2 linked regions of the Homo sapiens genome follow. The protein of the gene in region 1 interacts with the protein of each later gene in a biochemical or structural test. Each region holds a gene or a part of one and is shown on either strand. Other genes may lie near its edges.

Region 1 (3,817 bases):
CTTTCTACTTGCTTTGCAGGTATATGCCATTCCGCCCTCTGCTTGCCGGGATGAAGCAGGGCTTAGGGAAAAAGACTATGACTTCCCCCCTCCCATGAGACAAGCTGGAAGGCCGGACCTCAGACCGGAGGGGGTTTATGACATTCCTCCAACCTGCACCAAGCCAGCAGGGAAGGACCTTCATGTAAAATACAACTGTGACATTCCAGGAGCTGCAGAACCGGTGGCTCGAAGGCACCAGAGCCTGTCCCCGAATCACCCACCCCCGCAACTCGGACAGTCAGTGGGCTCTCAGAACGACGCATATGATGTCCCCCGAGGCGTTCAGTTTCTTGAGCCACCAGCAGAAACCAGTGAGAAAGCAAACCCCCAGGAAAGGGATGGTGTTTATGATGTCCCTCTGCATAACCCGCCAGATGCTAAAGGCTCTCGGGACTTGGTGGATGGGATCAACCGATTGTCTTTCTCCAGTACAGGCAGCACCCGGAGTAACATGTCCACGTCTTCCACCTCCTCCAAGGAGTCCTCACTGTCAGCCTCCCCAGCTCAGGACAAAAGGCTCTTCCTGGATCCAGACACAGCTATTGAGAGACTTCAGCGGCTCCAGCAGGCCCTTGAGATGGGTGTCTCCAGCCTAATGGCACTGGTCACTACCGACTGGCGGTGTTACGGATATATGGAAAGACACATCAATGAAATACGCACAGCAGTGGACAAGGTGGAGCTGTTCCTGAAGGAGTACCTCCACTTTGTCAAGGGAGCTGTTGCAAATGCTGCCTGCCTCCCGGAACTCATCCTCCACAACAAGATGAAGCGGGAGCTGCAACGAGTTGAAGACTCCCACCAGATCCTGAGTCAAACCAGCCATGACTTAAATGAGTGCAGCTGGTCCCTGAATATCTTGGCCATCAACAAGCCCCAGAACAAGTGTGACGATCTGGACCGGTTTGTGATGGTGGCAAAGACGGTGCCCGATGACGCCAAGCAGCTCACCACAACCATCAACACCAACGCAGAGGCCCTCTTCAGACCCGGCCCTGGCAGCTTGCATCTGAAGAATGGGCCGGAGAGCATCATGAACTCAACGGAGTACCCACACGGTGGCTCCCAGGGACAGCTGCTGCATCCTGGTGACCACAAGGCCCAGGCCCACAACAAGGCACTGCCCCCAGGCCTGAGCAAGGAGCAGGCCCCTGACTGTAGCAGCAGTGATGGTTCTGAGAGGAGCTGGATGGATGACTACGATTACGTCCACCTACAGGTAAAACAGCGGAACTCATAAAACACCTACACTCACTCACATGCAGGGAGCCTGAGAAAGATGCCTATAAGGATGTCGGGTTGGACTGCCAAAGGAGAGAACATAATTAATGTTAATCTACATGGTTCACAAATTGGAGGGAGTGTCGTAGAGTAGTAAGAACGCTGGGCTGAGAGTCCTGAGTACTCACTCAGATCTAGCCCTTTCTCTGACGTTTACTGTGTGACCAACTTATTCAACCTCCTTGGGCCTTAATTTCCTCATTTGCAAAATGAATGGGGTAAGGGGTTGGATTAGATCCCGTTGATATACCTCAGGTAAGAGGAGACTCACCAAGTAGGATAATAGGCCCTCTAATAATAATACCAGCTCCACTTCTATTTGTGTTTTATGTATAGTTCCATGCAATATTTTATTTGAAAAAAAAGTTTTCGTCATTAAGAAAAAGAATAGAAGACCTTTGCACCAGAGAATTTCTAAGGCCCCTGCTAGCCCTACTCTGTGTATGTGTGTGTATAATTGCTTTAAAACTTAGCCCCATCTCAGACTTACCTAGAGGACCACTGGGCATTAGCTAGCTGTCCTAGGAGCTTAATCTGTGTATGGGACATTGGATAGTCACAGTTGGCCTCCTACAATTGGGAATTCTACCAAGCTCCAAGTTGACCTGGGATTCCGACAGCTTTCCCTTCCACTTTGAGGGATTAAAACATTCTACTGGCTGGGCGCAGTGGCTCACGCCTGTAATCCCAGCACTTTGGGAGGCTGAAGCAGGTGGATCACAAGGTCAGGAGTTCAAGACCAGCCTGGCCAATATGGTGAAACCCCATCTCTACTAAAAGTACGAAAATTAGCCAGGCATGGTGATGCACGCCTGTAGTCCCAGCTACTTGGGAGGCCGAGGCAGAAGAATCACTTGAACCTGGGAGGCGGAGGTTGCAGTGAGCTAAGATCGTGCCACTGGACTCCAGCCTGGGCGACAGAGCGAGACTCTGTCTCAGAAAAAAAAAAAAAAATCTACCAAGATCCATTGTTTAGGACTAGGCTTACTATCTTATTCTGCCATTCTTTTAATTTGACTGAGAGTCACAGATTATACTGAGAACTACGTAACTATTATGCCAAATTCCCTCAAGCGCAAGAAAGTGTGGCAAGGAGAACTGAGCCCCACCTGATGCTGAGGAAGGAAGTGGAGAGAGAGAGGATGGAGGCATTGAACATTCATCTTACTGGTTGTCTGACCCTGCACAGTGGGAACTACTGCCTTGGAGCAGAAATCTATAGATGATTTGAGGGAACTAGAAGTGAGAGGTGGACCACATTTAGACCTGCATTTGGGGGTTTACAGGTTCACATATAATCTATGAGAAAAGAACCCAGAGACTATAAAAAGAACATTATATATGAGATTTGAAGGGAATCATGAGTAGCTCTCCGAAAATTTTAAGGTGCCCCAGAAAGCTGGCACCCTATATGGCAATGGGCTTTATTTTTCTGCCACCCCTGTCGTCTAGGGTTCACAGTGCCTCACTGGGCATTTGAGATGTTGCCAAGGCAGTGGAAAATAAAGAGTATTTACTCATCCGTCAATGAAATTGTTAGCATAAGTGAATCACAGTGATGACATAATATGTTCTTTATGTTGAAAATTAACAGGGTAAGGAGGAGTTTGAGAGGCAACAGAAAGAGCTATTGGAAAAAGAGAATATCATGAAACAGAACAAGATGCAGCTGGAACATCATCAGGTAAGTTCAATCAGAGCAAAAACTGCTTGGCATTGGAAAGATTTCCCACCTAGCACTAAGGAAAGGTATCACTTCAAGAGATTATGATTTTGATTCTTCCAGCTCACTGGCAGGAATCAGCTCCAAAGCACGGAATGGGGTTTAAAAGCAAAGAGAAGGTTTATGACCTTGTTAGTTCAACTGGGTGTACCTGGGTTCCATCTAAACGGCAATTTTTTTAAAGGCTAAACCTGCATATCTAACATATGAGGACTATTTGGGTTAAGGCATTTGGTCTCAAGAAACAAGACCCATTCAAGCTAGCCTAAGCAAGCAGGTTTATAGTAAAGCCACAGTAGGGGAATTCAGTAACAGAAAGTGAAGATAGAGCCAGGTCTGGGGAGAACTAGAACTGTAAATTATCTCTCCTTCTTGTAGTTCCTTTGCTTCTTTCTATCAGTCTACTTCACTCTCACCTATTTTCTGGTTTTCTCTAATTATCTACTCATTTGGCTCCCCTGTAACTTTGCAGAACCCATAAATGGCCACTCAGAACTTCTATAGATGGCTTTTCATCTCGGCTTCCTCTTCCGATGGTTAGCTCCCTTCTCTTGTTCATCAGATTCCCAAGAAAGAGTCTGATTGGGCCACGTTGATTGGGCCATTTCTCTTTCTCTCTCTCTCTCTCTCTTTCTGTCTCTACCTCGCTATTTGTCTCTCTTTCGCCAGCAACACAAGCCTATGGTTTGCCTGGCCTTGGTCCAATCTAAAGGTAGGAGAGCAGAATTCAATGTTTTCAACATATATCCAGGCCTATCTACTGAGGACTTT
Region 2 (3,817 bases), on another chromosome or scaffold:
GGCTGGAGAATCGCTTGAACCCGGGAGGCAGAGGCTGCAGTGAGCAGAGATCATGCCACTGCACTCCAGCCCGGGTAACAGAGTTAGACTGTGTCTCAAAAAAAAAAAAAAAAAAAAAAGAATTCATATATGTGTGTGTAACCAACTAAACACCCCATTTCTGAGATCAGAAGTCCTAAGGGCAGGAGCAGACACGCTGCCCTAGCCAAAGTCTTCACGTGCTTATAAAGCCAGTCGAGGGCTTTTTACCATTTCTTTTTTTTTTTTTTTTTAATTTCGAGAAACTGAGCAGATGCTTTAGAAATTCTCTTGTTACCATTGTGACTGATATTGCAATGTTTCTTTTCTTTTTAAAACAGAGCGGAGAGCCCAGAGCTTCGTAGAAACTACAAGTGGCAGCTCCGTGTGAGTGCCCACGCTAAGGCGGGCTGCCGAGCTGCCCTCCCGCTCCCGTCAGGCCACAGGCCCTCCATGGGTGGCCATGTGACAGTGCCTACTGCTCATTACAGCCAGGGCATTCATCTGAGGACTCTGGCGTTCGTGTCACATTCTTCTTGGTGCTTGTATACAGTCAGTGATTTGAAGGGGGCACCAGTTCAGAGGGAGAAGAACCGGGTCCCAAGAGGTGTTTTTGTTCTGTTCTGTTTATTTATGTATTTATTTGAGACAAAGTCTCGCTCTTTCACCCACGCTGGAGTGCAGTGGCACAATCTCGGCTCACTGCAGGCTCACTGCAACCTATGCCTCCCAGGCTCAAGTGATTCTCCTGCCTCAGCCTCCCAAGTAGCTGGGATTACAGGTGCACGCCATGACACCCAGCTAATTTTTGTATTATCAGTAGAGACAGGGTTTCACCTTGTTGGCCAGGCTGGTCTCAAACTCCTGACCTCAAGTGATCCGCCCACCTCAGCCTCCCAAAGTCCTGGGATTACAGGCATGAGCCACTGCGCCTGGCTTATTTTGTTTTTTAAATTGAGACAGGGTCTCCTTCTGTTGCCGAGGCTGGAGTGCAGTAGTGTGATCTCAGTTCACTGCAACCTCCACCTCCCGAGCCCAAGTGATCCTCCCACCACCCTCAGCCTCCCGAGTATAGCTGGGACTACAGGCTCACACCACCATGCCTAGCTTATTTATTTTATTTTATTTTATTTTATTTTATTTTATTTTATTGTTTGGTAGAGACACAGTTTCACCATGTTGGCCAGGCTAATATCAAACTTCTGGGCTCAAGCAATCTGCCTGCCCTGGCCTCCCAAAGTACTGGGATTAGAGGTGTGAGCCACGGCACCTGGGCCAACCCAGGATGTTTTGTTTCTCAATTTCTTTTTCTTTTTCTTTTTCTTTTTTGAGAAGGAGTCTTGCTCTGTCACCCAGGCTAGAGTGCAGTGGCATGATCTTGGCTTACTGCAAGCTCCGCCTCCCAGGTTCACCCCATTCTCCTGCCTCAGCCTCCCCAGTAGCTGGGACTGCAGGTGCCCGCCGCCATGCTGGGCTAATTTTTTGTATTTTTAGTAGAGTCGGGGTTTCACCGTGTTAGCCAGGATGGTCTCGATCTACTGACCTCGTGATCAAGTCAGGATCCTCAGCCTCAGCCTCCCAAAGTGCTGGGATTACAGGCGTGAGCCACCGCGCCCAGCCCTTGTTTCTCAATTTCTAACATGGAAATGTCCAGCTCCAGGAATACATGCTACACTTAAAAAATTATATTCTGCTACAACTGTCATTAGCTTTTGTATTACATCAAAAATGAAGAATCTGGAATACCATGGCTGACCATGTTTCATGTGCTAAGAGTGACCATGGCGAGTCTGAGTGCTCATTCAGGTTGTTTAAAAAAGAAAATCACCAGCCGGGCACGGTGGCTCAAGCCTGTAATCCTGGCACTTTGGGAGGCCGAGGTGGGCGGATCACCTGAGGTCAGGAGTTCGAGACCGGCCTGGCCAACAGTGAAACCCCATCTCTACTAAAAGTACAAAAATTAGCCAGGCATGCACCAGCACGCCTATAATCCCAGCTACTCAGGAAGCTGAGACAGGAGAATTGCTTGAACTCAGGAGGCGGAGCTTGCAGTGAGCCGAGATCATGCCACTGCACTCCGGCCTAGGTGACAGAGCGAGACTCCATCTCAAAAAAAAAAAAAAAAAAATCACCAATCAGGGGTGGAGGAGCTGGCAGCCTCGAAAGAAAAGAGGCTTCTCTACAGGGTCCCAAGATCTGGACTGGGCACCTACCCTGGCCTGCATTTTCTAGACTCTAGACTCATTTGCTTCACGTCCAAGTTGGGCCTTCACAAGGGAGTCAATGTTCACGTCATGCCTGCAGTTCTGTTGCAAGCAATGAACCTGGGATCCTGAAAGTTGACTTGAGAAGCCTGGGAAATCCTAGATTTCTATAGATGGCAGCACAACAGACAGAGCAAAAAGAACAGCTCCCATACATCTGATGACACTGAGGTTCTCACCGCCGCTCTTAAATGCTGTGGCAGAACAATGGTGTATAAAGCACTTCCATGTGCCGGGCATGGCTCTGAGTCCTCTACAAGGGAGACTGACTCTTCCGGACTTCACGACAACCTTGTGAAGTGGGGACTGTTATTCCCATTTTACAGACCAGAGCCTGTGATCACCAAGCTCCTGAGGGGCAGAGCCAGGGCTCAGCAAAGCAGCTGGCCCAGCGTCCATGCTCTTCGCCATTATGTTATTCTGTGTCTCAAAACTGCTCGCACGGCTTCCCCGTGCGGGCACTACTGTAAGTGCCTGACATGGGCTGGCAAGGGACAGACCTCACGACGCCCCTGCAAGTGGAGATCTGGGTGGTATATGCTGAGCACTGGAGAAAAGGTGGGCAGAGCCTGCCAAGCCCCACAGCAGGGCAGGGTCTGCCTGGATCCAGCTGTGAACCCCGACCTCTACCACAGCCTCTCACTGCCAACACACTCCAGGGCAGAGCACGGCAGTGCCTCCATGCAGGGGAACCAGTGAAAGGGTGCTGAATGCCACAGGGTGGCAGGGGCACAGCACCTGCAGCCGCTGGGGGTGACTCACCTTGTAGAGCTGGTGAAAGCCAAATGCAATGCCTGCCATGATGATGGCCAGGGCGCCGTAATCTCGCCATCGGGAGCCTGCGGGACCTACAGGCGGGAAGAGGAGGAGGGTTAGAAGACGCACATGGCGTCCTTCTTCGGGTGGGGGCTGGCACAGGTGCCTCAGTGGCACAGTCTCCTCGCCTCCAACAATGGGCAAGTGGAACACTCCAACGCAGGAAGGCAGCACATGATCATCACAACAGCAGCCGGCTCCACCCCTCCTGTTCCCACTGCCTCAACTGGGACACAAGGGATGCCAGTCACCCAACCCTGACTGCAGGCTGTGGGTGGAGGTATCTAGCAGTGAGCTGAGACCTGAGTTGGCAGTCAGGTGGCAGAGGTGATCTGAAGACCAACAGCATGGTCTCTACCTCAGGAACAAAAGATCCAGAGAGGATAACAGGAGTATGTTTAGGGGAGCATAAATATACCCATATATGCCCTACTATAGCTGGCGATAAGCTGGGGGCCACAGCAGAACCAAGCGGGGCCTCAGCGAAGTGGAGAGGGGGACCGTGGTACGCTGGGTGGGGGCACGGGGGTGGGCTGTGGTAAACTAGACCTCCCAGCCCTGCTCTCGCTTGGAGCCAGAGGAGAGAAAACACAAGTCTCCAAATGACTGAGCAAGGCTTCAGAGAATGAGAACGCCTATCAAAAGGGATGGGGGTGGCAGGGGAGAGGGGCTGGGGTCAGCAGGGCCTTGGAGGAGCCCTGAGGCCCTTGGGGGCTGGA

Evidence for each region.
Region 2: the proteins of NEDD9 (region 1) and PEX14 interact in a test that uses a peptide from one of them, tested with the Homo sapiens proteins (one large-scale study listed by BioGRID and IntAct).

What each region holds. Positions count from the first base shown.
Region 1 is NC_000006.12:11,187,408-11,191,224, reverse strand, and holds part of NEDD9 (enhancer of filamentation 1), read left to right. Parts: intron 1-19; coding exon 20-1,261; intron 1,262-2,917; coding exon 2,918-3,007; intron 3,008-3,817. UniProt on the Homo sapiens protein: Scaffolding protein which plays a central coordinating role for tyrosine-kinase-based signaling related to cell adhesion. As a focal adhesion protein, plays a role in embryonic fibroblast migration.
Region 2 is NC_000001.11:10,617,645-10,621,461, reverse strand, and holds part of PEX14 (peroxisomal membrane protein PEX14), read right to left. Parts: intron 3,131-3,817; coding exon 3,045-3,130; intron 1-3,044. UniProt on the Homo sapiens protein: Component of the PEX13-PEX14 docking complex, a translocon channel that specifically mediates the import of peroxisomal cargo proteins bound to PEX5 receptor.